Linked DNA regions of Homo sapiens. The protein of the gene in region 3 purifies or fractionates together with the protein of the main gene of each other region. This does not show direct contact. Each region holds a gene or a part of one and is shown on either strand. Other genes may lie near its edges.

The links.
Region 1: the proteins of LIPF (region 3) and LRSAM1 purify together in Homo sapiens (affinity purification with mass spectrometry; 3 studies listed by BioGRID and IntAct, with this or other methods). This does not show direct contact.
Region 2: the proteins of LIPF (region 3) and BRAF purify together in Homo sapiens (affinity purification with mass spectrometry; 3 studies listed by BioGRID and IntAct, with this or other methods). This does not show direct contact.
Region 4: the proteins of LIPF (region 3) and MPZL1 purify together in Homo sapiens (affinity purification with mass spectrometry; 3 studies listed by BioGRID and IntAct, with this or other methods). This does not show direct contact.

What each region holds. Positions count from the first base shown.
Region 1 is NC_000009.12:127,475,510-127,482,509, forward strand, and holds part of LRSAM1 (E3 ubiquitin-protein ligase LRSAM1), read left to right. Parts: intron 1-3,424; coding exon 3,425-3,454; intron 3,455-3,873; coding exon 3,874-3,996; intron 3,997-4,329; coding exon 4,330-4,469; intron 4,470-5,673; coding exon 5,674-5,718; intron 5,719-7,000.
Region 2 is NC_000007.14:140,774,125-140,782,882, reverse strand, and holds part of BRAF (serine/threonine-protein kinase B-raf), read left to right. Parts: intron 1-1,189; coding exon 1,190-1,307; intron 1,308-4,807; coding exon 4,808-4,892; intron 4,893-5,794; coding exon 5,795-5,971; intron 5,972-8,758. UniProt on the Homo sapiens protein: Protein kinase involved in the transduction of mitogenic signals from the cell membrane to the nucleus. Phosphorylates MAP2K1, and thereby activates the MAP kinase signal transduction pathway. Phosphorylates PFKFB2.
Region 3 is NC_000010.11:88,673,735-88,680,365, forward strand, and holds the end of LIPF (gastric triacylglycerol lipase isoform 2 precursor), read left to right. Parts: intron 1-1,851; coding exon 1,852-1,923; intron 1,924-2,474; coding exon 2,475-2,546; intron 2,547-4,710; coding exon 4,711-4,947; 3' UTR 4,948-5,080; downstream 5,081-6,631. UniProt on the Homo sapiens protein: Catalyzes the hydrolysis of triacylglycerols to yield free fatty acids, diacylglycerol, monoacylglycerol, and glycerol. Shows a preferential hydrolysis at the sn-3 position of triacylglycerol.
Region 4 is NC_000001.11:167,717,249-167,725,889, forward strand, and holds the start of MPZL1 (myelin protein zero-like protein 1 isoform a precursor), read left to right. Parts: upstream 1-4,733; 5' UTR 4,734-4,903; coding exon 4,904-4,994; intron 4,995-8,641. UniProt on the Homo sapiens protein: Cell surface receptor, which is involved in signal transduction processes. Recruits PTPN11/SHP-2 to the cell membrane and is a putative substrate of PTPN11/SHP-2.

The DNA.
Region 1 (7,000 bases), on a different chromosome or scaffold from region 3:
CAAACATTTAAAAATGCCAACTTTGCTGGTAATCAGAGGAGAGGCATGTTAAGTTAAAACAACATTGAAATACCATTTCCTTCCTCAAGATTGGCACACATTTTGACATGACAATTTCTGTTGGCCAGAGTATGGGAAAACAGGTGTCCTCATAAACTGCTCTTGGGAGTGAAAATTGGTATCACAACTTTGGAGGATAATTTGACAGTAGGTGTCAAAAAAGATTTTATTATTTTTTTATTTTTTTTTGAGATGGAGTCTCACTCTGTTGCCCAGGCTGGAGTGCAGTGGTGCAATCTTGGCTCACTGCAACCTCCATCTCCCGGGTTCAAGTGATTCTCCTGCCTCAGCCTCCCGAGTAGCTGGGATTACAGGGATGCGCCACCATGCCCGGCTAATTTTGTATTTTTAGTAGAGACGGGGTTTCACCATGTTGGCCAGGCTGGTCACGAACTCCTGACCTCAAGTGATCTGCCCACCTCGGCCTCCCAAAGTGCTGGGATTACAGGTGTGAGCCACCACACCCGCCAGATGTCAAAAATTTTCATGGGCACAGCCCGTGATCCAGAAGTTCCGCTTCTCAATGTATACCCAAGATAAATGCTTGCATGAGGAGACATTTGCAGGAGTGTTTATTGCAGCCTTATTTGTAGTATTGGATGCCCCCCAAATGTTTGTCAGTGAGAAGGCACTGCCCCTGGGTCATGTGCACACCATGAGATGGAGCATTTGAGCCTCGGCTCGCTGGGACACATGGATTAGTGAAAAGGGCAGATTGCAGAACAGGATGGGCTAGTCTATTTCCATTCTTATGTTTAAAAAGAAAACTCAATCAACACCAGCCTGGGCAATGTGGCGAGACCCTGTCTCTACAAAAAATACAAAAAAATTAGCCAGGCATAGTGGCACGTGCCTGTGGTCCCAGCTACGAGGGAGGCTAAGGTGGGAGGATGGCTTAAGCCCAGGAGGTTGGAGTTTGCAGTGAGCTAAGATTACACCACTGCACCCCATCCTGAGTAACAGAACTAGACCCTATCTCAAAAAAGAAAGAAAAAGAAAACTCAAAACAAAAAAAGGAAACAGACAGGTAGTTGCCAGTGGCTGGAGTGGGAAGAGGATTTGATGATGAAGTGGCATGAGCGAATTTTCGAGGGTGATGGAATTGTTTTCTTTTTTCTTTTTGAGACAGAGTCTCACTCTGTCACACTAGGCTGGAGTGCAGTGGCATGATCTCAGCTCACTGCAACCTCTGCCTCTCAGGTTCAAGCAATTCTCCTGCCTTAGCCTCCCGAGTAGCTGGGATTACAGGCACCTGCCACCACGCCTGGCTAAGTTTTGCATTTTGTTAGTAGAGACGGGGTTTCACCATGCTGGCCAGTCTGGTCTCGAACTCCTGAACTCAAGTGATCCACTTGTCTCAGCCTCCCAAAGTGCTGGGATTACAGGCATGAGCCACCGCGCCCAGCCAGAATTGTTTTCTATCTTAATTGTGTTTAGAGGTTACAGAACTCTATGCATATATAAAGATTCATAGAATTGTTCACTAACATTGGGTGAATTAGAGTAAATAGATTATACTTGATTAAAAAAATGTTTATATATGCACACAAATACAAATATATTTCTTTCCCAAAGGCACAAATTATATATGTACAGATGCATGCCTTGGGCCTGATAATGACAGTTACACCTGACAGGAGGTGTGGGGTGGGAGGGGAACCAGGGTTAGGCTGGAGTGGTCAGTAGATGCTTTAGTTTTTTATACCATGTTTCAAACTTTTACAAGGAGAATATATTGAGATGTTATCTGTATAATTGAAGATTAATTTTAAAATTATATTCCTACCATTAGTATAGGCAAAATCCTATTTATAGGTTGCTGCTTTTATAATTCAGAGACTGATCCTGTTCTCAAAACAGGATAACTAAATAGAAGGACCATTCAAAAAATACCTGTGTGCCAGGCGCAGTGGCTCACGCCTATAATCCCAGCACTTTGGGAGGCCGAGTCGGGTGGATGCTTGAGCTCAGGAGTTTGAGACCATCCTGGGTAACATAGCAAGACCTTGTCTCTACCAAAAATACAAAAAATTAGCCAGGCATGGTGGTGCGTGCCTGCAGTCTCAGCAACTTAGGAGGCTGAGGTGGGAGGATCACTAGAGCCCAGGAGGTCGCGGCTGCAGTGAGCTGAGATTGTGCCACTGCACTCCAGCGTGGGCAAGAGTGAGACTCCATCACAAAGAAAAAACTTGTGTGGGCCGGGCGCAGTGGCTCATGCCTATAATCCCAGCACTTTGGGAGGCCGAGGCAAATGGATCACCTGAGGTCAGGAGTTCGAGACCAGCTTGGCCAATATGGTGAAACCCTGTCTCTATTAAAAATACAGAAAATCAGCCGGGTGTGGTGGTGGGTGCCTGTAATCCCAGCTACTCAGGAGGCTGAGGCAGGAGAATTGCTTGAACCCAGGAGGTGGAGGTTGCAGTGAGCCAAGATTGTGCCATTATTGCACTCCAGCCTGGGCAACAAGAGCAAAACTCCGTCTCAAAAAAAAAAAAAAAAAAGAAGAACCTAACTCTTGTGTATATGTGTATTGCTGTTTAATTACATCAATAATAAATTAATTAATTAAACACCAATAATTACATTACATTATTGATGTTTAATACCTGCTCCTTGTTATAAATTTAAACAATACAGACAATTACAAACCAAGTGAATGTCAACCCTTCCACCCTGCACTCCCGTTGCCTGGAGGTAGTCATCATTAACTGATTAATGACTGTCCTTCTTGACCTTTGACTCAATACCTTCACACATATGCTCAGAGTTGAGTTTTCTTGATGATGTTTTTGCAAAAGTAGAATCATGCTACACACAGGTGAGGGATCTCACACATTCGCCCCATTGGCGGTTGTGTAATAGTCCACTGTATGGATGCACCATGACTTACGGACAGATGTTGATAGATGTATGAGTTATTTCCAGTGTTTTTGCTCTTTTGAATAATTCTGCAGGAAGTTGTACCCACACCTTTGTGCACTGTGAGTATTTTGGTGGACTGGAACCGGGTGCTGTAGGTGTGTTACGCAGACATCCATGGGCATCAGATATCCCATTTCCTGCTCTGCTCTTCAGACCACCATCCCTGCTCAGGGCTGCATCCCAGAACTGTCTTGAAGAGCCCCTCCTACAGTGCCATGCACACAGTGACAGCCCAGGGGTTCTCATCAGGTGTCCACTGGAACCACCTGGTGCCCTTGATCAATACGGATCCCCTCATCCCCCGACCCCACCATTCTGAGGCAGTGGTCTGGGGTGGGCCAGAGTTTGTATAACATCAGGCCACCCGGGGGTTCCTGGTGCCCATGCCAGGGAGAACCACTGCTGCCACCCTCTCTTGACCACTGTCTTTTTTTCCTCCCAGAACAGGTTCTCAGACTATGAGAAGAGGAAGGTAAGAAAATGCCTTTACCCTTCTGTCACTCTTTTCTCATTAAAGATCTCAACTCAACTCATAAAATATTTGAGAAAATGACTTCTTCCCAGCTCAGAATTAGAGGTCACAGTAATGCCTTCCTCTTACACGCAGTCTGCTGCATCCTCACATGCCTCAGGTGGGTGGTAGAGCATCCATGGGACAGGTGCAGAGACTGAGGCTCAGAGGGGTTGAGCCCAGCACCGGGCTCTAGACCACTAGCCTCTTCCTGTGAACAGCTTGTTTTCTTACAGTTGGGCCCTGGAGGGGAGTGGGGGTTGCTCAGCATGAAGACCTGGAGCCTGCCCTGTCAGTGTTGAGGGGTGGATTCTCCCGACTTCTGTGTCCTAACTCCCCCAGGGCCTGTGCTGACAGTCACCAGGATCTGTGTCTTGCAGGAACAGAAGATGCTGGAGAAACTCGAGTTTGAACGGCGCCTGGAACTGGGGCAGCGGGAGCACACCCAGCTCCTTCAGCAGAGCAGCAGCCAGAAGGATGAGATCCTTCAGACGGTCAAGGAGGTTTGTGAGCCGCCTGCTAGGGTCCAGCCTGGCTGCATCCCCCAGCCAGTGGCCTCCTGGCTTGGGCCAAGGTCCCTCGGATGTGGAAAGGCAGTGGGATGAAGCTGTCACTTCCTTCTGTCCCCCAGCACCTGGGAGGGCCCTTACAGATCACCCAGCCCAGCCTCCCCGTGTGCAGATGGACACTGTAGCCTACTGGGAGGAGCTGGCCGGAGGTCACACAAAAAGGATTGGCAAGGCAGGGTGGGAAAGCCAGCCTCCTAACCCCAGTCAGTACCCCTCACGGCGTCTGAGGGGGTCCCAGGGGCTCAGGACCCCTACCTCCGGCTGCAGGAGCAGTCCCGGCTGGAGCAGGGCCTGAGTGAGCACCAGCGCCACCTCAACGCAGAGCGGCAGCGGCTGCAGGAGCAGCTGAAGCAGACGGAACAGAACATTTCCAGCCGGATCCAGAAGCTGCTGCAGGACAATCAGAGGTTGGGCTCTGCTCCTCGGCCCCAGCCCCAGAGTCCTTCCCCGTGCAGTCCCCTGAGGAGCCGGGAGGAGTGTGTTTCTCCCTCACTGCCTCTGCCCCTGCCCCGGGCTTCCCTTGTCAGGATCCAGTCTGGGTGCTTCAACTGGCACCAGCGTAGAGAGAAAAGAATCTGACCCAGTCATTACAAAGTCTGGTTTCTTAGCATGAGACTGCTACCAGATTGGACCTGTGGCCTCGGGCAAATGTTTCCCCACTGGGCCCCAAGCTTCCCATCTATAAAGTGAGTGGGTTTGACAAGATAGTTGGGATCACATCCTGCTCCAGTATTTTGGGTTCTGCGTAACCCGTTGCACTGAGGTCAGCTGTTCACCTGTAGTGAGATTTGCCTTAACAAACCCTGTGCAAGGTACGAGCTAGTAAGAGCAGATCTTGATGGGGCTGGGGAGACATGGCGCCAGAAAAGCCTGAGAAGTCTAGTGAGGGGGCCCATTGCAGGATGATTCCAGAAACAGGCTCCAGCCATATGCCCTGCCACTTCCAGGCCTCTTTTTTCTAACCCTGAATCACTCGTTCCTCCCTCACCTGTCAGTTTCAAAAGTACCTGCATGAGTTCAGGAAACCAGTCATTTGTTGGATGCTTCTTATGTGCCAAGCTTGTTACATCTATTTCTTCATTAAGTCTTTACAAATGCACCAAGAAGCTGGGTTGTTTTCATTTTGTTTTGTTTGAGACAGAGTCTCGCTGTGTCACTGAGGCTGGAGTGCAGTGGTGTGCTCTCGGCTCACTGCAACCTCCTTCTCCCAGGTTCAAGCAATTCTCTTGCCTCAGCCTCCCAAGGAGCTGGGACTACAGGCTTGGGCCACCACGCCTGGCTAATTTTTGTAGAGATAAGGTTTCTCCATGTTGACCAGGCTGGTCTCGAACTCCTGACCTCAAGTGATCTATCCACTTCAGCCTCCCAAAGTGCTGGGATTACAGATGTGAGCCACTGTGTCTGGCTGGGTTTTTTTATTCTTCTAATTTCATAGGTGAGGAAACCTGGGACTTGAGTGGTTTCAGTAACTGGCTAAGAACCCAGAGCTTCAAGGTGGTGGAGCCAAGGTGCCCCCAGCCCATTTCCTAAGCCCCTCTGCACAGCTAACGCAGTGAGACAGGAAACAGGCCTGCTGGTGACTGCCAGGACCTTTTATGATTTTCTCCACAGACAAAAGAAAAGCTCCGAGATTTTGAAATCGCTGGAAAATGAAAGGTAAGTGTTCTTCCAGGGGAGGGCAGCATTTTTTTTTTTTTTTTGAGACGGAGTCCTGCACTGTCGCCAGGCTGGAGTGCAGTGGCACAATCTCGGCTCAGTGCAACCCCCGCCGCCCAGGTCCAAGCAATTCCCCTGCCTCAGCCTCCCGAGTAGCTGGGACTATAGGCGCATACCACCACCAGCTAATTTTTTGTATTTTAGTAGAGACGGGGTTTCACCGTGTTAACCAGGATGGTTTCGATCTCCTGACCTCATGATCTGCCCGCCTCGGCCTCACAAAGTACTGGGATTGCAGGCGTGAGCCACTGCTCCCGGCCAAGGAGAGCAGCTTTGAGGGGAGAATGTCTTGTGATTCTCCAGAGGATTATGCCAGGACATTTCCCTAAAGCTATAAGGAGATTCACCTCCTTAGACGATATTTAATTACAAAGAATCATTGTCTTCAAGTTCATTAAAACATACGTACACTCCTGAAAAACATTCAGAGACATGAATAAGGCTAGATATATAATGTCCAACTATATTCCTAGTATAAAAAGTTCAGGCCAGGCGCAGTGGCTCACATCTGTAATCCCAGCACTTTGGGAGGCCGAGGTGGGCAGATCACTTGAGGTCAGGAGTTTGAGACCATCCTGGCCAACATGGCAAAACGCTGTCTCTACTAAAAATCAAAACTTAGCCAGGAGTGGTGGCAGGCGCCTATGGTTCCAGCTAAAAAAAAAAAGAAATTCAGAAAAAAAATCTAAATTTCTGGAAAGAAAAATTATTTAGTTACATAAATTATGTATGGAGGAATAACCTGCAGCCATTAAATGTCTTATTGAATAATATTTCTCATTAAGGGAAAACATAACATATTGCTAATGGAAAAAGTGACAGGCTATATTTATAGCAGAATTTTTAGTATATCTTTTTTTTTTTTTTTTTTTTGAGACGGAGTCTCACTCTGTCACCCAGGCTGGAGTGCAGTGGCACGATCTCGGCTCACTGCAACCTCCACCTCCCAGGTTCAGGCGATTCTCCTGCCTCAGCATCCCGAGTAGCTGGGATTATAGGCGCATACCACCAGGTCCGGCTGATTTTTGTATTTTTAGTAGAGATGGAGTTTCACCATGTTGGCCAGGCTGGTCTCAAACTCCTGACCTCAAGTCATCCGCCTGCCTCAGGCTCCCAAAGTGCTGGGATTACAGGTGTGAGCCACCGCACCCGGCCATGTGACTATTTGTGAAGGAAATATTTAAAGGACATTTTGCTAGGTGCCAACTTACCTTCCCAAAAA
Region 2 (8,758 bases), on a different chromosome or scaffold from region 3:
GTTTTTTGCTTAAAGCATATTTCTACGGCACTGCTTTTTGCTGTCATCTATAATATAATTTAGTAAAAGGCAGTTTTGGAAGAGTAACAGTATTCTGTTCTAAAGTAAGGAAAAAGAGAGAAAGCTAATATTAGAAGGCACGAAAAGGCTGGTCCAGAATTCAGATATTTCAGATATCTACTGAAGGACATTCTTCCCTATTTAAAAAATCAACTTTCTTCTGCAAAATGAATCCACCATGGCACATGTATACGTATGTAACAAACCTGCACATTCTGCACATGTATCCCAGAACTTAAAGTAAAATTTAAAAATAAAAAACGAATACTGTTTAGCCGTAGTATTGCTACTAATTGTTGAATAAGAGGATCTTTTACCCTACCAAAGTAATTTTATATGTTGATTTTTTTTTTTTTTTTGGAAAGACCGAATTAGATAAGATACATGAAGAAATTTAGCACTGATTGAAAAAGACTACCTAGATGAATTGTCAGTAGTTACCACAGGTTAACTTAAAATTTTTTGTGATTTAGAGCCAAAACTATTCACAAATATAGCAGCACTTATCTTGCTCCTTAAAGTCTTCCAGATGATAAAAACATTTTACTTATTTCAGTAATATACATTCCTGCTCATACCCCATAAATAATTTATATTTTTTAATAAATTGTTTCCATCCTAACCATCCTTCTGAGCAAAGTATCACAAGGACAGAAAACCAAACACCACATGTTCTCACTCATAGGTGGGAATTGAACAGTGAGAACACTTGGACACAGGGCAGGGAACATCACACACTGGGACCTGTCATGGGGTAGGGGGAGGGGAGAGGGACAGCATTAAGAGAAATACCTAATGTAAATGACAAGTTAATGGGTGCAGCACACCAACATGGCACATGTATACATAAGTAACAAACCTGCAAGTTGTGCACATGTACCCTAGAACTTAAAGTATAATAAAATAAAAAATAAAAATAAATTTTTTCCATCCTAATATTGACTTCAGTCTTAAATTTAAGTTTTGTATTTTAAGAGTCATACTTTTAACTACTATTCTTCCAGAGAATTTTTCTTAAGGGGATCTCTTCCTGTATCCCTCTCAGGCATAAGGTAATGTACTTAGGGTGAAACATAAGGTTTTCTTTTTCTGTTTGGCTTGACTTGACTTTTTTACTGTTTTTATCAAGAAAACACTTGGTAGACGGGACTCGAGTGATGATTGGGAGATTCCTGATGGGCAGATTACAGTGGGACAAAGAATTGGATCTGGATCATTTGGAACAGTCTACAAGGGAAAGTGGCATGGTAAGTATGTAATGTGGTGACATTGTGACAAGTCATAATAGGATATGTTTAACAACTTTTATTTTGTAAAAAATATCATCAAAGGAAATATTCACTGTTCGCATCAATAAACTATTTTGATTAGTTTCAGGACTCCTCCAAAAGTTTCTAACAAAAATTATGGGAAATAAAAACTGTTCACAGCAGTCGGGACTCCTACCATTTTATTACAGTAATAATTTTTAAAGGGGAATTCCTCCAGGTTAACTAGTCCTCAAAAGGATTTTATTTTCTTTTAGAGTCTTTCAGCTGATAATTTTATTTGTATTATAAGTCACAAGTAAACATATTAAAAATGTACTTAATGGCTGGGCGCAGTGGCTTATGCCTGTAATCCCAGCACTTTGGGAAGCTGAGGCTGGCTGATCACGAGGTCAGGAGATCAAGACCATACTGGCCAACATGGTGAAACCCCATCTCTACTAAAAATACAAAAATTAGCTGGGTGTGGAAGCACGTGCCTGTAGTCCCAGCTACTTGGGAGGCTGAGGCAGGAGAATCACTGGAACCCAGGAGGCGGAGGTTGCAGTGAGCTGAGATTACGCCACTGCACTCCACCCTGGTGACAGTGAGACTCCGTCTCAAAAAAAAAAAATTAACAAAGAAATATAAGTGGCCAGTAAACATATACAAAATGTTCAGCCTTACTAGTTATCAAAGAATTGCAAATTCAAAAAATAGACATCATTATTTGCCTCTTAGTTGGACAAAATCTTTTTAAATTGGATTATATTAAGAGTAGTGGATGTATTTTCATCAAAGGTTTAATATCAATGAAAAGTGAAAGTGAACATGTATCCAACTAATAGAGAATTGGATAAATTTATACCATCATATGTGATTATATAGGAGTTAAAATGGCATGGTAGAGGTACATTTATTGATGTAGAAAGGTGTCTTTGGTATATGAAATTTTTCAAAGCAGTATGTGTAAGATACCATATTATGGAGCTCATAGAAATATATAACATAATTTTTTATATGACAGTATTTTAGGCCAGGCACAGTGGCTCACGCCTGTAATCCCAGCACTTTGGGAGGCCGAGGCAGGTGGATCACCCAAGGTCAGGAGTTCGAGACCAGCTTGGCCAACATAGTGAAACCTCATCTCTACTAAAAATACAAAAAATTAGCCAGGCTTGGTGGTGGGCGCCTGTAATCTCAGCTACTCAGGAGGCTGAGGCAGGAGAATTGCTTGAACCTAGGAGGTGGAGGTTGCAGTGAGCCGAGATCCCGCCATTGCACTCCAACCTGGATAACAGCGAGACTGTCTTAAAAAAAAAAAAAAAAAAGACTGTGTTTTAGTTTTTATCTCCTTAATCTATCTTTTCACAGGTGTTCATAAATATTCACACTAAATTCATGTAAAAGCCTAATAACATATAATGTCACTTTTGAGTGACATAATTAAGGGAATTTTTTTATACCTTCAAAATGTCTTTAAACTTTTCTTAAGTGCTGTACAGTATTTTATGATACAAACAGTAGAATAAGCACTGTATTACTTTGATAATTGAGGAAAATCAATGTTGATTTAACTTATTAAAATATACATACAGGTTGAGTATCTTTATTTATTTATTTTTGTTTGTTTTGTTTTGTTTTGAGACAAGGTCTCGCTCTGTCGCCCAGGCTGGAGTGCAGTGGCACAATCTCAACTCACTACAACCTCTGCCTCCCAGATTCAAGCAGTTCTCCTACCTCAGCCTCCTGAGTAGCTAGGATTATAGGCGCGTACCACCACCCCTGGCTAATTTTTGTATTTTGAGTAGAGACGAGTTTTGCCATGTTGGCCAGGCTGTTCTCAAACTCCTGACCTCAGGTGAGCCACCCACCTTGGCCTTCCAAAGTGCTGGGATTACAGGTGTGAGGCAGCACACCTGGCCAGGTTGGGTATCTTTAATCCAAAATCCCAAACCCGAAATGCTCCAAAATCCAAAACTTTCTGAGTGCTGACATGATGCTCAAAGGAAATGCTTATTGGAGGATTTCATATGTTTGGATTAGGGATGTTAAACTGGTAAGTATAATCAAAATATTCCAAAATCAGAAAAAATTTGAAATTTGAGACACTTCTGGTCCCAGGCATTTTGGATAAGGGATACTCAGCCTGTGTATAAAAGTGCACATAAATTAGCCAGGCATGGTGGCATGTGCCTGTACTCCCAGCTATTGAGGAGGCTGAGGTGGGAGAATGGCTTGAGCCCAGGAGTTCAAGGCTGCAGTGAGCCATGATCACACCACTGCACTCCATCCAGCCTAGGTGACAGAGCAAGACTCTGTCTCTAAAAAAATTAAATAAACAGAACATTACTAGCACTCTAGAAACACCCTCCCATGTCCTCTTCTAGCCAATCACCTCTCTCCCAAGGGTAACCACCACTGTGATTACAACAGGAAGTGCATAGTGTGTACTCTTTTGTGTCGGCCCTTTTCACTCAACATTGTTTATAAGATTCATCTATATTGTTGTGTGAAGTTGGAGGTCATTCATTCTCTTTACAGTATTTCATTGTGTGACTATAACATGATTTCTTCTTTCATCTGTTGCAATTGGATCGTTTCCAGTTTGGGGCTTTGATTGATGCTGGTGCTGTAAACATTTTTAGTGTATGTCTTTTGGTGAACATGTAACCATTGATGGGTATATATACCTAGGACAGAATTGTGAGACCACAGGGTATGCATATGTCCAGTTTTAGTAATGCTGCCAACAATGTTACAAAGTAGTTGTACCAATTTAAACACCTACTGGCAGTGTTGACGTTACAGCTGTTTCACATAAAGTTTTTTTTTTTTGATGATTTTAATAAAATATCATTTTCTTTTTTTATTATTATTATACTTTTAAGTTTTAGGGTACATGTGCAAAGTGTGCAGGTTAGTTACATATATATACATGTGCCATGCTGGTGTGCTGCACCCATTAACTCACATGAAGTTTTTTTTAAATTTTAGTGACAGTTTTAGTCATTTTCCTAATTGAAAGTATCATAAGTAATCCATAAATTTGAAAAAAATGTTAACTACTCTGATAAAAAAGTTTTATAGTTTCCTACTTTTAAGCAAAATTCCATAGGGCCTGGTAATTGTAGTTTCAACATTACTTGCAGTTTCAGTTAGTAAATAAATATTAAGCCTAGTAAGTATAATTTAATATTGTCAAATAATTTGGAAAATACCATGGGTACTTAATTGATTTTACCAAATTTCCATGGAACAAACAAGGTTGGCTATTTTTTGGATTGATATTTTGAAATACTAGTACAGGAATATCATTGTTAGTTGAATTTTTAGCCTTAGAAAACAAATGGAGTTTAGATAGCTAAAGTATAATTTATTTGTGATTTAATAATGGTATGGAGTTAGGGCTATGATAATTAGTGAAAACACCCAAGAATGTTTTATACTTTTAAATTTTAAAAATTGAAATGACACTTGGAGTAACAATTGCCTTTTAGGTGATGTGGCAGTGAAAATGTTGAATGTGACAGCACCTACACCTCAGCAGTTACAAGCCTTCAAAAATGAAGTAGGAGTACTCAGGTGAGCTTGTGTGAATTACTCTTTTCCAGAGAAAGAAGTTATTTTTATTAGCTCCTGGTTCCCAGTGGTAGCAACTATTAGCTTTACAGATTTACTCAAAATGAATAAATTTGTAGAAACAGAGTATGTCTGAGTATATTTTTGTCTTTAACCACATTCTTTTAAGTAGTATGCAATGTTATATGGTATGGCTGATAGAATACTTAGTCCTAGACTGAATTAATGGAAGTATAGTATTCTGATAATATAAAGTAATAGTTCTACTTATGAAAAGAATACTCTCCAGTTTTAAGCTTATCAGAATACATTTAGAGGTGGTATTTAGTCCTGGGCTCTGGAATTTTAGAAACATTGACAAACTAGGATATGCCTAGTGAGGACCACCTAAATAGGGAAGATTCTAGAGGTGTAACGGGGGAAAATAATCAACAGAACTGAGGATATTTAGTTCACAGAAGGCTGTTATGTTCAAGAGAGTGCACAGTTATTCCAGAGTGCGGAAAAAAAAGTTATTCCAGAGAGCAGACCAGGGAAGCAAGCCAGAGGTGAAAGTTGTAAGAAAATGATTTTGTCTCAACACTTGGAAACTTTATAATACCAGAACCACTTAAATAAAGATATGAGAGTCAGCTACAACTGAGTGATGAACTTCCCATAGTTGAAGGTATTTAAGCAACCTCTAGTTGCCTGTCAGATATATTTAAAAAGATATCTCTGCATAAAGTAGGAGGTTAGACTTGGCAATTGCCAGTCTCTTCTAAATGTATCCTTTTGTTGCCTTTTTTAAAAAAAAAAAAGCTTTTTCTGACAACATTTTACCGACAGACTACTTTGGTTCTCTTTTGTAAGAATTGCTAAAGTTTGTCGACATTTAATGTTTACTGTCACATTTCTTTGTACAGGAAAACACGACATGTGAATATCCTACTCTTCATGGGCTATTCCACAAAGCCACAACTGGCTATTGTTACCCAGTGGTGTGAGGGCTCCAGCTTGTATCACCATCTCCATATCATTGAGACCAAATTTGAGATGATCAAACTTATAGATATTGCACGACAGACTGCACAGGGCATGGAGTAAGTTCCATTCGTTAAATGTCTTGTAAATTATTTTTGAAGACCATTGAGGATGTTTTAAAGGTTTTGGCTGCTATTCTTTTGGATTGCATTTTAAATTACTGTCCAGGAACATAAGGATGCTAACTAATGGCTGGTAAATAATATGATACTAAAAAATAAATGTCTCTGTCTAGTGCAGCCTTCAGAACATATATCAAGTATTTGATAATAAATACATGACTGCAAACTTAGGCTTAGCACTCAGTGATTGAGCTAAGCAAGAGAGGTTCAGAAGATAGAAACAGCAAAAACCTGCTAAAAAGTTGTTAGCAGTTGTGCAAGTAAACAGAATGGTTGTTAGTTACTTTTTCAAATCAGTTTCTCTGAGTGCCCGTATTTTTGGTTGCAAAATGGTCAGTTAATAAAGTTAAAGTGAAAAATCTGCATTCTGACCCTTTTTGAGGATTTCAGAGTGAGTTCCTATCTGTTGAATTTTGCTATGCAATTTAAGGAGTTATTTTATAAAGTTTACCATAAGCTAATATGGGGAACTGACTTTGAAGGATAAATTTTAAATTTTGCAACTCTTAAGTGCAAATGAATAGGTAAATTAAAAGGTAAAATTAAACAAATTTTGAAAGCACTTAGGTGAAAATTATAAACTCAGTAAAATATGAATTTGAAAGCTCTGTGAGAAGTTTAAAAATAGATATGATCTGAATTTTGTTTTTTACAAATTGCTTTCACTTACATAGATTATTATGTCATTTAATCTTTATAATGTTATGAAGGAGATCTTTTTTCTTTTTACAGATAAGGAAATTGAGGCTTTTAAGTTCCTTGTCTAAGGGCACACATTTAATAAGTGGCACCAAAGGTGTTTAACTCAGGATTTCTGACTCCCAATCCAGTATTCTTTCCCCATAACCACTATGCTACTTTTACATTACAAAATTAGAATAAAAGAGTAAAAGGGTATATATGTACTAACACCTACAACTCTAACTGAGTATTGCTCCTAGCAAGTAAGTATAGAGCCAAGACTCTAAACCAGATCTGGCTCTTAGATCTTCCAACTATACCACCTTCTCTTTCTCAAAACTAGGCAATATATCTATAATTTAGATTGTTTACAAGCCTATATTCGGCCAAAATACTTATTACAGCAAATTATTACCTTATTCAGTAACACCCCCACTTACCCCTAGACTTGAAACAATCTCAACGTTTCAGATAAGTTAGAATCTCTGAATCTGTTCGAATCTAAAGGCTTTTAAAGAATTAAAATCTTGGCCAGGCACAGTGGCTCACACTTGTAATCCCAGAACTATGGGAGGCCGAGGCAGGCGGATCACCTGAGGTCGGGAGTTCAAGACTAGCCTGACCAACATGGAGAAACCCCGTCTCTACTAAAAATACAAAATGAGCCAGGCACAAGCCTGTAATCCCAGCTACTTGGGAGGCTAAGGCAGAAGAATCACTTGAACCCGGGAGGCAGAGGTTGCAGTGGGCCAAGATCACACCATTGCACTCCAGCCTGGGCAACAAGAGCAAAATTCCGTCTCAAAAAAAAAAAAAAAGAATTAAAATCTTGTGAAGAGTAAACCATGGCAAAGATTGTGAACATTCAGTGAGAAACAAAGGCTTATTCTCTTCCCACACCACTGGTCTCTTTGCAATTTCTTCAGCAGGCCAAGCGTGTTCCTTCTTTAGGACCTTTATGTTTGTTATATTCTCTTTAGGATACACATGCCACAAATATCCTTGTGTCTCGGTTCATATGTCCCCTTTTAATAGAAATCCTTGCTCACCTTATATAACTAACATGTCCCCACGTCACTCTGTCACTCTCTATACCCATAGGCTTGATTTTCTTTATAACGCATAGCTCCATCTGACTTGTTTCTTGTCTTTTATCCCCACTAGAATGCAGGCTGTATGAGAGCAGGGGCTTTTTTTCATTATTTTATGCCTAATGCCTAGAATGGGACCTGGCATACTCAGTACATAACTGTTAAATGAAAATGATTACACACAACTGCATATTATTGATAGATTTACCTTTCAGAAGAAAGAGATGCCAAATCCTTCTCACATCACAGCTGAGAAATGTGGCTGGGCATGTTGGCTCACACCTGTAATCCCAGCACTTTGGAAGGCCAAGGTGGGAGGATTGCTTGAGCCTAAGAGTTCAAGACCAGCCAGGAAACATAGGGAGACCCTCGTCTCTGTAAAAAATAAAAAATTTAGCAAGGTGTGGTGGCACTTGCCTGTAGTCCTAGCTACTCACTAGGCTGAGTTGGGAGGATCACTTGAGCCCAGGAGTGTGAGGATGCAAGGAGTCGTGATTGTGCCACTGCATCCAGCCTGGGTAACAGAGCGAGACCCTGTCCCAAAACAAACAGGCTGGGTGTAGTGGCTCATGCCTGTAAACCCAACACTTTAGGAGGCCGAGGTGGGTGGATTAAGACAAGAAGTAACAGTAAAGAAGAACATTATCAAATTGGAATAGTGCTGCAGTCTGAAGAACAGTCAGTGAAGAGGTGATATATTTTCAAAATATCACTTTACAGTTTGGGATTATCAGTGTAAACTTTAGTCATCTACTCTGAAACACTTTGGTTGTGTTTTTAAATAGATCTTACCATTTAACATGATGCAATGAGTGTACGATAGTATGAACATAGATCATTCCATTCAGTTTATCCTAGATTTTAGTAACTGAAAAAGTATTAATTCCAAGTTTTAAGCCCTCCAGCAGAGTATACTTTTTAGTACCAGTTTAAAATTAACCAAGGAGGATAT
Region 3 (6,631 bases):
GTTAGTATGCATTTCAATTTCTATATTTTGAGCAACATCTTTGATTACTTGTTTCATTGCCACTTAGAAGTGGTACTTTATGAGAACTAGGAGTAGGTTCAGAACTGCGATATCCTGATAAACATGAGAGAAATCACAAATCATTGCTCCCAATTTAATCACTTCCAGCATCCTTCCATCACCCCAGTTGCCCCTAAACCAAATAAACAACATGAAGAAAAAACACAATTCACTACTCACTTATGACCACCTAAATACTAGGTGTTACATTTAAATTCTGTAAGAGAAAGGACTGAACCATATATTTTAGCAGGCTCCTTTGTGAGAAAAATGTCTAGATATTGAATAAATGTTTTCAATAAATATTTCTAATGCTGACAGTCATTTTGATAAATCTTACAGACTATATTTCTGAGCAACTATTTATGTAAGACTTTGCCCATATTCTTTTTTTGAGATAGAGTCTCGCTGTCACCCAGGCTGGAGTGCAGTGGCGCAATCTCGGCTCATAGCAAGCTCCGCCTCTTGGGTTCACGCCATTCTCCTGCCTCAGCCTCCCGAGTAGCTGGAACTACAGGCGCCCGCCACCACGCCCGGCTAATTTTTTGTATTTTTAGTACAGTCGGGGTTTCATCGCGTTAGCCAGGATGGTCTCAATTTCCTGACCTCATGATCCACACGCCTCAGCTTCCCAAAGTGCTGGGATTACAGGCGTGAGCCACCACGCCCGGCTGACTTTGCCCATATTCTTTATCTACCTTTTCATTCACTTTGTATTGAGTTGGAGTTTCAAAACATATGGACAAAATACACTATCATAGTTAAGAGTATGGATTTAGATCAGTTTAAATTCAAACCCTACATTTGGAACTGACTTAAACGTCTCTGTCTTGATTTCCTCATCCACAAAATGGGTTATTGGGAAGATCAAATGAGCTAGTATGTTTAAAGCATATAGAACATTGTACAAAGCATATAGCACATAGTAATAGCATATAAGGTTTTCTACTACTATTCATAGACAACTATCTCCCCTCCAAATTGTCACTTTAGTTATATACCCTTGAACACCTAAGAAAATTACATCTATTGATAAGAAGGTATAATTCTATGAAGTGTTGTGGTTACTTGTCATTCCATATGTGGAGTTTAACAGAGAGTAGCCTGTCCTCATCACACGAACAAAAGGCAGAACAAATTACTGTATTCCATTAGTGAGAGTCTTATAAGAAAAATAATAGTAAAATAAGACAAAGGAAACAAAGGAAATTAGAGATTTCATCTTCTGCGTAATAATTTGCAGAAGACCATCTTCAGTCTCCAATGAAGATGGCCAATTTGTTTCACTATGGCCACAGTCCGCTATATTAATGGCATTAAGAGTCACTATGAAGTGGCCTTCTGCAACTGGAGAAAGGAACTTCAGTTTGTTGCTTGGGGTTCTGCAAAGCAAGAGGCCTGTGTGTGAATATTTAACCTACAGCACTCTAGCACTGGGTAGAGAAGCATAAAAGCTGAGAATTTAGACTCAGAGACCCAAATTAAAGTATCTGTCTCCATTCTGTGTGGATCTTGGACATTTCTTTAAACTTCTTTGTGCCCCAATTTTCATGTTGATAAAATGGAACTAATAAGTTCTCCTCATTAGGCAGCTACAAATTAAATGGGTTAACACATGCAATTGCACTTTGCAAATTCTGAAGTGACATACAAATGTGTTGTTCATATCCTTCCAGTAAATGCTACCTTTAAACACTTGACCTGAATCAGAAAACATAAATCTTTACTGTTTTTAAGAAACTGAGTATGTGTCTTAGTATGTATATAATATGTGTGTCTGTTGATTTCTAGAGTCGCTTGGATGTGTATCTATCACATAATCCAGCAGGAACTTCTGTTCAAAACATGTTCCATTGGACCCAGGTATTCTTTTCCAAATGCTGTTAAAATGTATTTTGTGAGTCTCAACCCTTTTCACTTTACCTAAACACATTCTTAAAATATCCTGCTGAGTACACCTGGAAGGTAATTTTTCTGGCACTGACTACCATACAAAAATAACTATGAATTTATTTCAAAGAAGAAAATGCTTTTTATTTTATTTTATTATTATTATACTTTAAGTTTTAAGGTACATGTGTACAACGTGCAGGTTTGTTACATATGTATACATGTGCCATGTTGGTGTGCTGCACCCACTAACTCGTCATTTAGCATTAGGTATATCTCCTAATGCTATCCCTCCCCCCAGCAAATGCTTTTTATGACTTGGTATGCAAGAAAAATTATTTTGAGTGAAGCTGCATTTAAACTTACATAAATACCTTGTCCTAGATTATTAATAATCTTTTGGAATGAGAAAAATGTTTCTTAATAATTGTTTAAATTGAAAATAAACTGCTTGGAAATGTTTGAATTTTATTTTTCACAATATAATAATTTTTATTTGTTTGCTTTTAATTTCTCTATGTTAGGCTGTTAAGTCTGGGAAATTCCAAGCTTATGACTGGGGAAGCCCAGTTCAGAATAGGATGCACTATGATCAGGTAAGCTTCTTAAAGATGGAATTATTCACATTTTGAACAACAATACTAACTATTTAAATGTTAAAGAAGAAATTATGTTAACTGCGCATCTGTTTTCCAAAGGAATGTTGATGTTCTGTCTCTCATTCTCCCACATGACTATGCATTCCTGCTCTGGTGGCTACGCTCATTTAAAGAGGTTTACAAAGCTGCCCTCAAAGTACTACACCCCTGTGTGTGAGAGACTTCCCAGGACTTACCACTACCCATTGCCATTACACAGACCTGTCCCATATCCCAGATCCCCAGCACACTGTCCTCTCCTTTCTGAAGTACTAATACCTGATATAATAAGCTAATAATTCTAACTGTTCATGGAATTTCTGGTCTTCTTAAACAATACCCTTTCCTTTGTTGACAGCCAGAGGAGTGATTTCAATGGGATATATTCCCAAATAGAAGAAAAAGATGCCGTGCTTGCAGGTCAAGGCTGGAAATATTTTACAATAGGCAGAGGCCTTTGGCATAGGCAGACATATTAAGCAGTCCTCACACTTGCTGTAATAAGAATCCAGACTTTGGAGCTTATCTTATCTGCAGTCAATATGAGTTTGGGCAGTCATTTCTTCATCTCTCCACCCAGGCTCAGGAAGTTGTTGACAGGATTTAGTGCTATAATATCTATAAGCTCTTAGCTCAGGGTAAGCTCTCGGGTTATCACTGACTATTTTTGAACAAGGGAAGCACCCTATAGTATTTTGTAACCTTCTCTTCTTCCTTTTCACCACATCCAATTTTTCCATCCAAGTAGTAGCTGAACAACTCTACTAATTTTCATTTGTTTCCATGACTTAAAATTTAGAAGGAATTTATATGTTTTAACAACAATGTCTTATGTGTAGAGAAGGTGCCCCCCAACCTTGATTTTGCATTTTTGATATCTTTAAAGTTTTCAGAATAGCATGAGATCAAACTTTTGTTGAAAACATTTTTTCCTCCACCATCACTTTCTCAAATCTCCAAAACACACAGGCTTGCTTTGAGTCTCTCTTTCTACTGGACTCTAATACTCATAATCAGAGGACTTCATCTTAGAGGAACAAGAAACCCAGTCCCCAAGTCCACCCTTCTTCCAACTAAACCAATAATATACCAGGTTGGTCTTTAACTAACTGAAGCAATGACACTAATTTAAGAGCCAGGGCCAGCATCTAGAAAACTCTTTGAATAATAGGATGTAAGTAAAATAAGCTGGGTTTATAATTATGAATATTCTCCACACACTCCCTTTTCTCTAATATTTAGGAAATATAATAGAAATCATGAAAATATTAGGGAAAATTACATATCATAAAATATTTTGCTATGGCAAGTTGGCTATTACACAAAATGTGAGAATACAGAAACTTTTAGTATATTGGATTACTATTCTTGAAACTATGATCTAAAAAAATCTAACAAAATTCTCTCTGGGCAGCAAGAAAATTTGAGATAATTCTCTTATTCCTTTTTCTGCTTTGTAAACCTCTTTAAAATCTATGTGTGAATTGTGATTTTCGAGAAACAGGACATGGGGATGATAATACCCTTTCTCAGAATTTGAAGCAACATTTTGTAAATACTCAGGTAAGTATTCAACAATTACAGCTCCATAACTGAAACAACTGACCTATCCCCTGACCATAACTGGGAAGTCAATACAAAGCCAAAATAAATGACTCAGGACATTTTGAGATCATATTTTAGAGTGTTTGGGTAGAAACAACCTATTAACAATTAGAATCTAATCAAATCCATTTCCCTTAGCTTGAGTTGCAATCTATGTTCTTAATTTGTAAGACTTACTGTCCAAAGCCTTGCTATTCAGAGCATGGTTTGGAGCCAATGGCATCAGCATCACCTATGAATGCAGAATCTCAGGCTGTTCCCCAGATCTACTGAAACAGAATTTTTACTTCAACAAGATCTTCAGGTAATTCACAGGCCCATTAGAATTTGACAAGCACTTATCTAAAACATATTGCATTCACTTTGCTCTGTGGATAAAGGTGGTTTTCTCTGTGCAATCATTGCTAGAATTCACTTATAAAACCGCCAGTTAATGTTATACACTCTACTTGAATAGTAAGTACTGGGTTTAAAGTGTGGTTACCTAAACTCTGGTTCTTTCTCTTGTGTTTTCTAGTCCCAACCTCCCTACTACAATGTGACAGCCATGAATGTACCAATTGCAGTGTGGAACGGTGGCAAGGACCTGTTGGCTGACCCCCAAGATGTTGGCCTTTTGCTTCCAAAACTCCCCAATCTTATTTACCACAAGGAGATTCCTTTTTACAATCACTTGGACTTTATCTGGGCAATGGATGCCCCTCAAGAAGTTTACAATGACATTGTTTCTATGATATCAGAAGATAAAAAGTAGTTCTGGATTTAAAGAATTATCCGTTTGTTTTTCCAAAATACTTTATTCTCTCATACATAGTATTTTCATAATGTTTGACATGCAGTGCTTCTTTCTGTAATTTTGACTTTAGAAATATATTGGCATCAACAAACTTCCATTTGTCATTTTGAATTTTTTTAATTTAAAGAAATTTGATTTTTCACCTGGAAATTTATCTAGAAATACTTGAGAGAATATATTTCTGGGGAGGTGAAACTTCTCATTTTCCCATTCAGTTTCTCTTCTGAACTCACTTATATATGAGCTGTGAGCCATAAGTGTTTCTAAAGGACAGTGTTGGCTTCATATTCGCTCTGCTTATGTACACTTGATACTGAGTATATTGCTTTCTATTGTTGATGAAGCTAAGTCTTTCCATCTGTGTAGTGGGGCCTATCACTTGCTATTTTGCATATTTAACCCCATGGAAAGGCCAATTGGGATATAAACTGAATCAACTCACTTTCACTTCCCAGGGAGTGGAGAGCAAGGGTAGTTTGGGAAGCAGCAGATGAAGTCAACCCTGAGTCAGGAATTTGGGAAGAAAAGGGTATGCTCTATTATTATTATTATTATTATTATTATTATTATTATTATTATTGTTCTGCCCTCATGTTTTTGGGTCTTGACCACCAAATAGGCACCAACTAACCAAACTATTTTTGAAATCTCTGCCACAGTGCTGGAAACCACAGGATCCAGAAACATCCCCATTGATATATCAATTAGGATGTACAACTGCCATCAGTAACAACAAAAAAAAAGGCTCACCCAAACTTTCAAAATTTCTAAACACACACAGCCTTACCTTGGAAATTTTATTAACCCCACAAATTTGTGACCTCATATTTTATGCAATTAAGTTATTCAGATCACACCTATTATACTATGTTACGGTTTGATGTATAAAATATAAATGAGATAAGGAATATCTTGTACCCAGCATAGTGTATAAAACATAGTGAGTATTCACAAAAACCTGTTAACAATGTTTATTATATTGTCACATCCCTCAACCTTTGTTAGGAAGCCCCAAACTTAATTTGTTTTAAGCAAGAAATTGCTAAAAGAAGATAACTTGGGAGACTTTATTTCAATATTTCAGTGAACTTTGTTGTTAGACTTTACTAAACTGACATGAACATGTCGGTGACTAGTTACAAATGTTCATGGTGGTGGAAGCAGTTGAGGACTCAGATGTTTTATCAACTCTACTTCCTCGAGAAAAGAACAATCATTAGATTCTTGCAGTCTCCTATGCTATTCCAGCTAACTGCCTTTCTTTTAGTCGGTACTCAGCAGATACAGGAAGTTTTGGTTTGGATTTTGAACACAATTAAATACTATCTTATTGCTCCTACAGCAGCTTTGCTATCTCCCATTTGTTAATTTGAACTGTCAATTTATCAGCTAATTTTCAAGAGTTTATTTCTATCTGCCTGCTGTAATCACAATTTTCAAGTGTTTATTTCTATCTGCCTGCTGTAATCACTCCTTGGGCAACCTCCTGCCATGTCAAACTCAATCATTTCAAACTCAAATTCATCATCCCCACATCTCTGAGCCAAATAAGTGTCAAGTTAATGAAGTTCTCCCAGTAACCAGGGAGTGAGACTCTGGAATCAACTTTGAATACCGCCTCTCCTCTAGTTATCCTTTCCCT
Region 4 (8,641 bases), on a different chromosome or scaffold from region 3:
AGAAAGTAGGAGGAGAAACACCCCGTTCTTAAGTTTTTCTTATATAGTGATCTTACCTATGTAAAAGCTAGGCTAAGCTGTGCCTACATACGGGTGAGCAGACAACATGACAAATTTTGTTACTCTGTTGATTTAAAGAAGACAATTATTGACATTTTAGTGTGTGAATACGTAAAAGCATAACTGTGATTATCTTAAAGGCATATATTGTTGTAGATATTAGGACATTTGGACTTCTTGCTGTTGTAGGAGTCAGTCCTAGTTATCTTCAGGCTGTTTCCTTAATTATAAACATCCCATGACTATGGGTCGTGGCAGGCAAGGAATGTGCCTTGTTAGTCCTAAAATGGAGCTGAACTTAAAATGGCATTATTCTAGCTTTCCTAGGCTGCTGCTTCCCTAACACGTTGACAAACACATTGACAAACAGTAATTGTGAATTGTCATTCTAGCAAATAACCAACCAGATAGGAAACAAGTAGACAGAGTGACTATCTTAAATAGACCTATTCATTAATTTTATTTCATATGTCATACATTCATCGGTTTATTCATTCATTCATTCATTGCTCATTCTTTTTTATTTTTTTCCGAGACGGAAGTCTTGCTCTGTCACCCAGGCTGGAGTGCAGTGGCGCAATCTCAGCTCACTGCAACCTCCGCCTCCCGGGTTCAAGCAATTTTCCCGCCTCAGCCTCCCAAGTAGCTGGATTACAAACGGTGGGCACCAAATGTATTTTTAGTAGAGATGGGGGTTTCGCCATGTTAGCCAGGCTGTTCTCGAACTCCCGACCTTGTGATCCGCCGGCCTTGGCCTCCCAAAGTGCTGGGATTACAGGCGTGAGCCACGGCGCCCAGCCTACTCATTCTTCAACAAACATTTAACAACAAGTACTATGTGACCGACTCCGAACTGTCCACTTTCTTCCTATGGTTTGACAACAGAAAATTATAGAAAATCTAGCGCTGTCTTTACCCTTGTTTTATTTAAAACTGCCCTAACTTGAGTCTTCAGTTCTTCTTAGGGCTCCAGGAAAGGAGGGAGGATAAGAATACCTTGTACAATGTTAATAAGTTCTAGATTGCCAGATAGTGTATTCATCAAAATCTAACTGGAAAAAAATATGCCCTGGACACCTAAGAAGTTTATACTGCTTTTCTCCTTAAAATGAGGAAGCTGTAGAATATAACTGGTTAGAGAAAATAATATAACCACTTCAGATATCTGAAAGCCTCAGTCTCAAGAAGTCTCCCTGCTCTCTCTCTTTTCCCTTTTGAATTTACTATAGCTATTATCATTTTAGATTTTTCCCCCCAACTTCTTCTATCTAATCATTAAAAAGGAACTTGTCTTTTACTCGGCAGGCCAAATACTTGAGTATCTCATTTGACTGTCATAACAATGATGCAGAAAGACTGACAATAACAAAACTCAGAATATTGATTGCTTCATTGACAGTGGGAAATATCCCTATTTGGTAGGAGGAATGCCTGCGCTATCTGTCCAGGCACATGCTTCCCTAGAATTAGGTCCTTGGGAAGCAGATGTAGTACACAGATGGTTGCAGGGCCCAGGAAAACAGTGTATCTTGAGGAAAATTTTATCCCAGCTACAGTGAATTTAGAAGTCTGACAGCACAGCCTTCTCCTGTAAGAATTAACACCTCCCTAAGGACCCTTTTACCCTCGTTCCCCCAATTTGGTGTCTCTGTGCCAAGGGGAAGGAGACACTAGAACTCTAATTTTCCAATTTTCAAAAATTTCTAGCAGCAATGCTTCTGGATTAAGACATTCTTTGTGAAACTGATTTGGCTTCAGGCGAATCTTTCTCAAGGTGGCCTGGGATTCCTCTTTGAATCTATCTGATTTGTTATCTGCGAGGAGTCAAATTCTCAGGGTTCCTGGGACACCACCCACATTCCAATTTTCCTCTGGCAACAGATCTTGAAGACAAAGACAGACAGGCTAGAAATTGGGACTCTTTTTCTCTTGATTATACTTCTCATCCAATTTATACCCAGTCCTGTAATTCTTTTCGTGAAATGTCTCTCAAATCCTGTCTTCTCATCCCCACTATCAATACCTTATTTCCTGCTCTCTTCATTCTTGCCCTGCTGCAGTGGTTACCTTTTTAAAACACAGATCCGAACTTCTTACACCCCTTTCACCACTCTCCACTGCCTCCAGAAAAAACACAACTCAAGGCTCTTCAAAATATGACCGCAGCCTCCTTTCCTGGCATTCTCTCTTCCCCTCTTTCCCTCACTCCCCTCAAGTTGCAAACCACAAAGGATTCACCTAATGTTTCTCACACTTGGTAGGTGATTTCTTTTCTCTGAATGTGCTTTTCCTGTTTTCTCCGTTCTCTGAGTTTGCTTTTCCTGTTTTCTCTCTGGTGAATTATTCATCTTTTAAAGTTCACCTTAAATGTTTTATCCTTGGTGAATCTTTCTAGATGCTTCTTGGGCCAGTGGATTTTAGGAGAGCGAGGTATATGTGGCTGAGGTACATCACAATCAGCAGAGAAGCTTTAAACACTGCTGAGAGTCACTGTCCCTGCTGGCCTTGGGTTTCTTCTTTATTCACTCTTCCTTTTTTTGAGACGGAGTCTCGCCCTGTCGCCCAGGCTGGAGTGCAATGGCGCGTGATCTCGTCTCACTGCAACCTCTGCCTCCCAGGTTCTGTAGCAGGATGAGCCGCAGACAAAACTCCTCAGACACGGAGTTAAAGAAGGAAGGGGTTTATTCGGCCGGAAGTATCGGCAAGCCTCCTGTCTCAAGAGCCTAGCTCCCCGAGTGAGCAATTCCTGTCCCTTTTAAGGGCTCACAACTCTAAGGGGGTCCGCGTGAGAGGGTCATGATCAATTGAGCAAGCAGAGGGTACTGTGAATGGGGGCTGCATGCACCGGTAATCAGAACGAAACAGAACAGGACAGGGATTTTTACAATGCCTTTCCATATAATGTCTGGAATCCATAGATAACATAACCGGTTAGGTCAGGGGTCGATCTTTAACTACCGGGCTTAGGTCAGGCAGGCCCAGGCCTGGTTTCGGGTCTGGTTCTTAGGCGCCGGGTTACCTGCCTTTAATTTCGCTTCTCTTTCCTTTTCTGAGTATAAAACTATATGAGAGGTTCTGTCTCTCTTCTCTCAGTTCAAGCGATTCTCCTGCCTCAGCCACCCGAGTAGCTGGGTACAGTCACGCGCCACCCATGCCCGGCTAATTTTTTTGTATCTTTTAGTAGAGATGGGGTTTCACTACGCTGGCCAGGCTGGTCTCAAACTCCTGACCTCGTGATCTGCCCGCCTCGGCCTCCCGAAGTGCTGGGATTACAAGTGTGAGCCACCGCACCCGGCCCTCATTTTTACAAATGTAATTGAGTACTTGTTTGTGTACACTAGTAGACGATGTGCTTCTTGAGAGTAAAGCCCAGGTGTTCTACATCCATGGTTCAATTAATGCATTGGTATCTTTTCCAACCTATGGCATTTGAGATACAACTTCAAAAGGATCTGCTGACAGAAATAGGGCAAAGTGGTTCTGGTATTTTTTTTTTTTAAGTTTTTTTCTCACTAATGTTCTTATGATTTCGCTGTACTGCAATGTTAGCTGAAACAGCACAGATATCAGGAATGGCATTGTTAAGACTGACCTTAGACAAAAACCCTGAAGTGAGAGGTTACATTTTGGGTTCTCACCATACTCTTCCCCCGCTCTTGTCCTAATTGTCTAAAGCTTGCTTCCCTTCCTCATCGTATCAGCCTCCCACCTGAATCTTCCCTTTTCCTCCTTCACACTCATCTTTCTTGTGCCCCTGTCCCCCATTTTTCCCTTTTGTAAGCCATTTTCATAAGGATCCTTCCAAATATTTCCCCTATTGATTGGACAACCCGTAGGTGGCAGACTGTTCTGGGCCAAGGCAACCAAGTTGAGCAGGGCCAGCAATCAGTGTCGGGAACTTCTGCAGGGCACTTCAGAATCAGTGTTGGGAACTTCTGCTTTCTATTTTTCACGGACACAGACAGGAACACAGATATGCGAAAGCAAAACAATCAAAAAGCATTTTCATTTGTTTTTCAGGTAGTAGGAAAGAGTTCCAGATTCCCATCCTTCTGAAGCCAGGAGGGAGGTTCCTAAGAGGAGGTTAGGGCAAGATGGAGACTTCTTTTTAAACTAGTAGATTTCGCAAATTGCAACACATACATTATCTAGTCCACGCAAAGGACAGGCCTTGGGGACACGGCACGGGGAACGTGTTCCACCTGGACGACTGAATCAGAAGTCTCTCCCCCATCAATTGAACGCCTCATTATTTTTCTTTCTGTCTTTTCTTTCTTTTTAAGGTAAATGAATTGCTTCTTTTTCGTTAGGTGAGGCCGGCAGAGAACAAGAAGAGCTGAAACGGAGGCGAGGTTAGTACCCAGCAAAGACCTGTGGCGAGGAGAGACAATGAAGAGGACCACGGGACTGGACCCTGAGAAAGGCAGAGGAGACGCTGGCTGGTGGGGCCCGCAGGCGGACAGCCACGCAGGCAGGCGGAAGGCTCGGCTCGGCCTGGGACCGCTGCAGACCCGGCCTCCGCGCGGGGCCGAGGCGCCTGGGTGGGACCGAGGAGGCGGGGCCTTCCCGGCGGACGGATGATGGACAGCCTGACTCTCCAATCGCGTCCTTAAAAGGGTGCGGGCAGGCCAATGAGCGGACAGCGAGGGCCGGAGTGGGGCTGAGGCTTCGGTGCAGAGCTGGAGAGCCGCGGCTGGGACCGGAGTGGGGAGCGCGGCGTGGAGGTGCCACCCGGCGCGGGTGGCGGAGAGATCAGAAGCCTCTTCCCCAAGCCGAGCCAACCTCAGCGGGGACCCGGGCTCAGGGACGCGGCGGCGGCGGCGGCGACTGCAGTGGCTGGACGATGGCAGCGTCCGCCGGAGCCGGGGCGGTGATTGCAGCCCCAGACAGCCGGCGCTGGCTGTGGTCGGTGCTGGCGGCGGCGCTTGGGCTCTGTAAGTGATGCCAGGACCAGGGCTGGGGCCGGGGAGTGGGGCCCCCGGGCCCGACACACGCCCATCGCGGCGGTCGCAGGCCAGGCGCGCGCACTGAGAGCCGAGGTGGGGAGGGGGCGCGGCCTGCGCTCTCTGGGGCCGAGGGGACCCAGCCCATGGGGAACGCGGGCCTCCGCGACTGGCCGGGAAGGCGCAGAGCCTCTTTCTTCTCTTTCCTGGATCCTGGAGTGCGGAGGAGGAGGGGAGAGTGCTTTACCTTGCTCCTTCCCGGGGGGCGGTCCAGGGGAGCGGACCCGGCGGGCGGCTGCGGTGAGCCCTCGCGGCGCACCCTGCCCTCTCCTCGTGGTGACTCTGGATCGTCTAGGCCCTCCCGGATTCTGACTCAGGAACTAGGGTTCTGGCGTTCTTCACCTTTGGGAGGTGGCGGAAAGTTGCAGGTTTTTCATTTGTAGGGCCTTTGTTGATTTGTTTCCTGTTAAGCCAGGGTTTTGTTGTAAGTTCCCTTTCCCATGCTCTCATTCAGTTTTAAGTCTCCGTAATAAAAGAGTCTCATTTCCGTGGTCTGCAAAACGCCAATAAAAAAATATTGTTACTTCTAGGTTAGAATGCAAAGAGCTTGGAATACCAGTGAGATGGCCTGGCTTAAAAGAATTTGGTCAAATCCATCATAATTCCAGACGTAGCCACCATAATTTGACAAGACATAGAGCATTAAAAAGCATAATTTTCCTAAAGGAAAAAAAAAGCTCCTTTTTCTTACCAAATATTGTGACTCAAGCTTAAGGTAAACCTCGGGCTCAATTTATGGGAATTGGATGACTTGTTTTATGGACATCTGAAGTGGTATCTGCCACAGGACTTTTCTGTGTTGTTGTTCAAAGCAAAGTACTTGTTGCTGTCTCCGAATTTAGTTAAATAATAGTTATAAAGAGGGCCAGCTGCTAAGAAACCACGTAGATTTTTTTCATTCCCTTTGTTTTCAAAATGTCAGTTATGATTTAGCATCACAGTATCTGAATACCAGAGTTTACTCAGTAATTTCTTTCTTCATGGAAAAGTTCTTAATATAATCCTTGGATCAGGGAAACTAGGTGAAGTTCTGTTGGATCACCAACTGTTCCACTTAAACAGTGATTCCAGGGGCTGTAAAGCATAAATGTAAAAGTCTCCCTACCCTCCAGGGGTTGACAGATGATGACACACTTTGTGTAAGACACAATCCATTCTGTATTTTGTCTTAGAAAAAAAGGTTAAAAGTGTGTTTGTTGGTGGTGGTATTTGTGTTTAATCAAACAAGTAGAAAATAGCCTAAAATTAAGGTTTATCAGAAATATGCTTCAGACAGAATTGTTATGCATGAGAGGTCAGACATTGCTATGGAGGACAAAGCAGTTAGGGTGATCTTAATTAAAATCAGGGTATTAAACGTAGAAGGAGTGCAAAACTACATAGTAGTGAAAAGATCACTAGAGTAATAGCCCCATACAACTTGGACGTAACTCTTCAGTAATGAAGATGAATGTTGATATGTAAAAATCAGCAGCTGATGTTATTGGTTCAACTTAGAAAATTATTGAATCTAAAATTCTTGCCAAATCACCTCTTTTCTGGTCATGGATACTGCACATAAGAGTTTATCTTTTACAGGATAGCTTCTAAAGTTTTATCAAGACAGTTACTCAGCAAACATTCACTGAGCACCTTTTAAGTGCTTAACACTTAAAAGGTGGGAGGTTAGGTCTCACTGTGTTGCCCAGGCTGCTCTGGAACTGAAACTCCTGGGCTCCAGTGATTCCTCTGCCTTTTCCTCGCAAGCAGCTGGGGCTACAGGTGTGTGCCACTGTGTAGGGTCAGAAGCACATTGGTAAAGATGTACTGTGGGAGCTTGAAGGAGGGTCATTATCTCAGACTGTAGTTCAGGCTACTGGAGGAAGGGAGTTTAAACTGGGTAGGCATGGGGGAGGGGCAGAAGTACATACAGAGTTATGAATGAACCTGTTGGTAGTTCAGTATAGTGGGAGGTTGGAGTGTATATAAGGGGAATGGTGGGAGTTGAGGCAGGAGAGCCTGCCAAGGGCACCAGCTTACAAAGGGCCTTGTCTGCCACACTTAATCCAATGAGGATTTCTCTGTCTATTGAGATGTGAAGGATGGGTTAGAGTGGGGTGAGGCTGAAGCCAGAGAAGGCAGAGGACTATTGTAATAATCCCGGGGAGGATGATGAAGATCTGAATTCAAGCATTGGGCTATGAAGAGAGGACACATGTTGATGCGCCACTTAGAAAGTACGTTTGATAGAGCTTGGAAACATTGATGCAGGCTTGAAAGAGGAGGTGGATAAAATGATCATAGGTTTTGGGCTTGGGAAGCTGGGCATATTTTTGGCCTTTTCACAGATGGGGAAATAGGAGTCTTGGGGGAAGAAGATGATGGAGATACTTTTGAATATGTTGAGTTTGAGATGCGGGTAAGACATCCAAATGGAGATGGGCAGAAAACAATTGGATAGACAGTTCTGGAGGTGAGGAGAAAGTTCTGGTTGGAAATGGAGATTTAGAGAGTTATGTGGCTAATAGTTAAAGCTTGGATTGTTTGGATGAGGGCATCCAGGGAAAATGCACTGAAGAACATAGCAGAGAGCCAAAGACGGAGTTTTGGGGTATATGAAACCTGACAAAGAGTCTCTGTGAGTAAGAGAAAAACCAGGTGAGTTTGGTATTTCAGCATTGTCAGATGAAGAGAGATAAAATGTGATAAGAATTCACTGAATTTGGTAATTGAAATGAGCACATAGTATATGAGGACTAAATCTCAGTAATTTGTACCATCCATGTCAGTAAATGGAACCTCCATACATCTAATTGTGCAGGCCAGAAACCTAGGGTCCATCCCTGATTCTTCCCTGTCCTTCACATCCAATCAGTTCTCCCATCTTTAAAATGCATCTGGAATTGATGTTTTTTCTACCTCCACTCCTAGCCTTTTAGTCAAAGTCACCACCATTTCTTGCCTATATTACTGTGATAGCCTCCCAGCTGCTCTTCCTCTTTTTCCCCCTCTGGAGTCTTGCTCTGTCTCGCCCAGGCTGGAATGCAGTGGCACAATCTCGGCTTACTGCAACCTCCATCTCCCAGATTCAAGTGATTCTTCTTGTGCCTCAGCATCCCAAGTAGCTGGGACTACAGGCATGCACCACCATGCCTGGCTAATTTTTGATTTTTCTATTTATTTTTAAATTTATTTTATTTATTTATTTTTTGGGGGATGGAGTCTCGCACTGTTGCCCAGGCTGGAGTGCAGTAGCGTGATCTCGGCTCACCACAACCTCCACCTCCCTGGTTCAAGCGATTCTCCTGCCTTAGCCTCCCGAGTAGCTGGGACTACAGGCGCATGCCACCATGCCCAGCTAATTTTTGTATTTTTTAGTAGAAACTGGGTTTCACTATGTTGGCCAGGCTGGTCTCGAACTCCTGACCTGGTGATCCACCCGCCTTGGCCTCCCAAAGTGCTGGGATTACAGGCGTGAGCCACCACATCTGGCTGATTTTTTTATTTTTAGTAGAGACAGGGTTTCACCATGTTTGCCAGGTCTGGAACTCCTGACCTCAAGTGACCGGCCTGCCTCAGCCTCCCAAAGTGCTGGGATT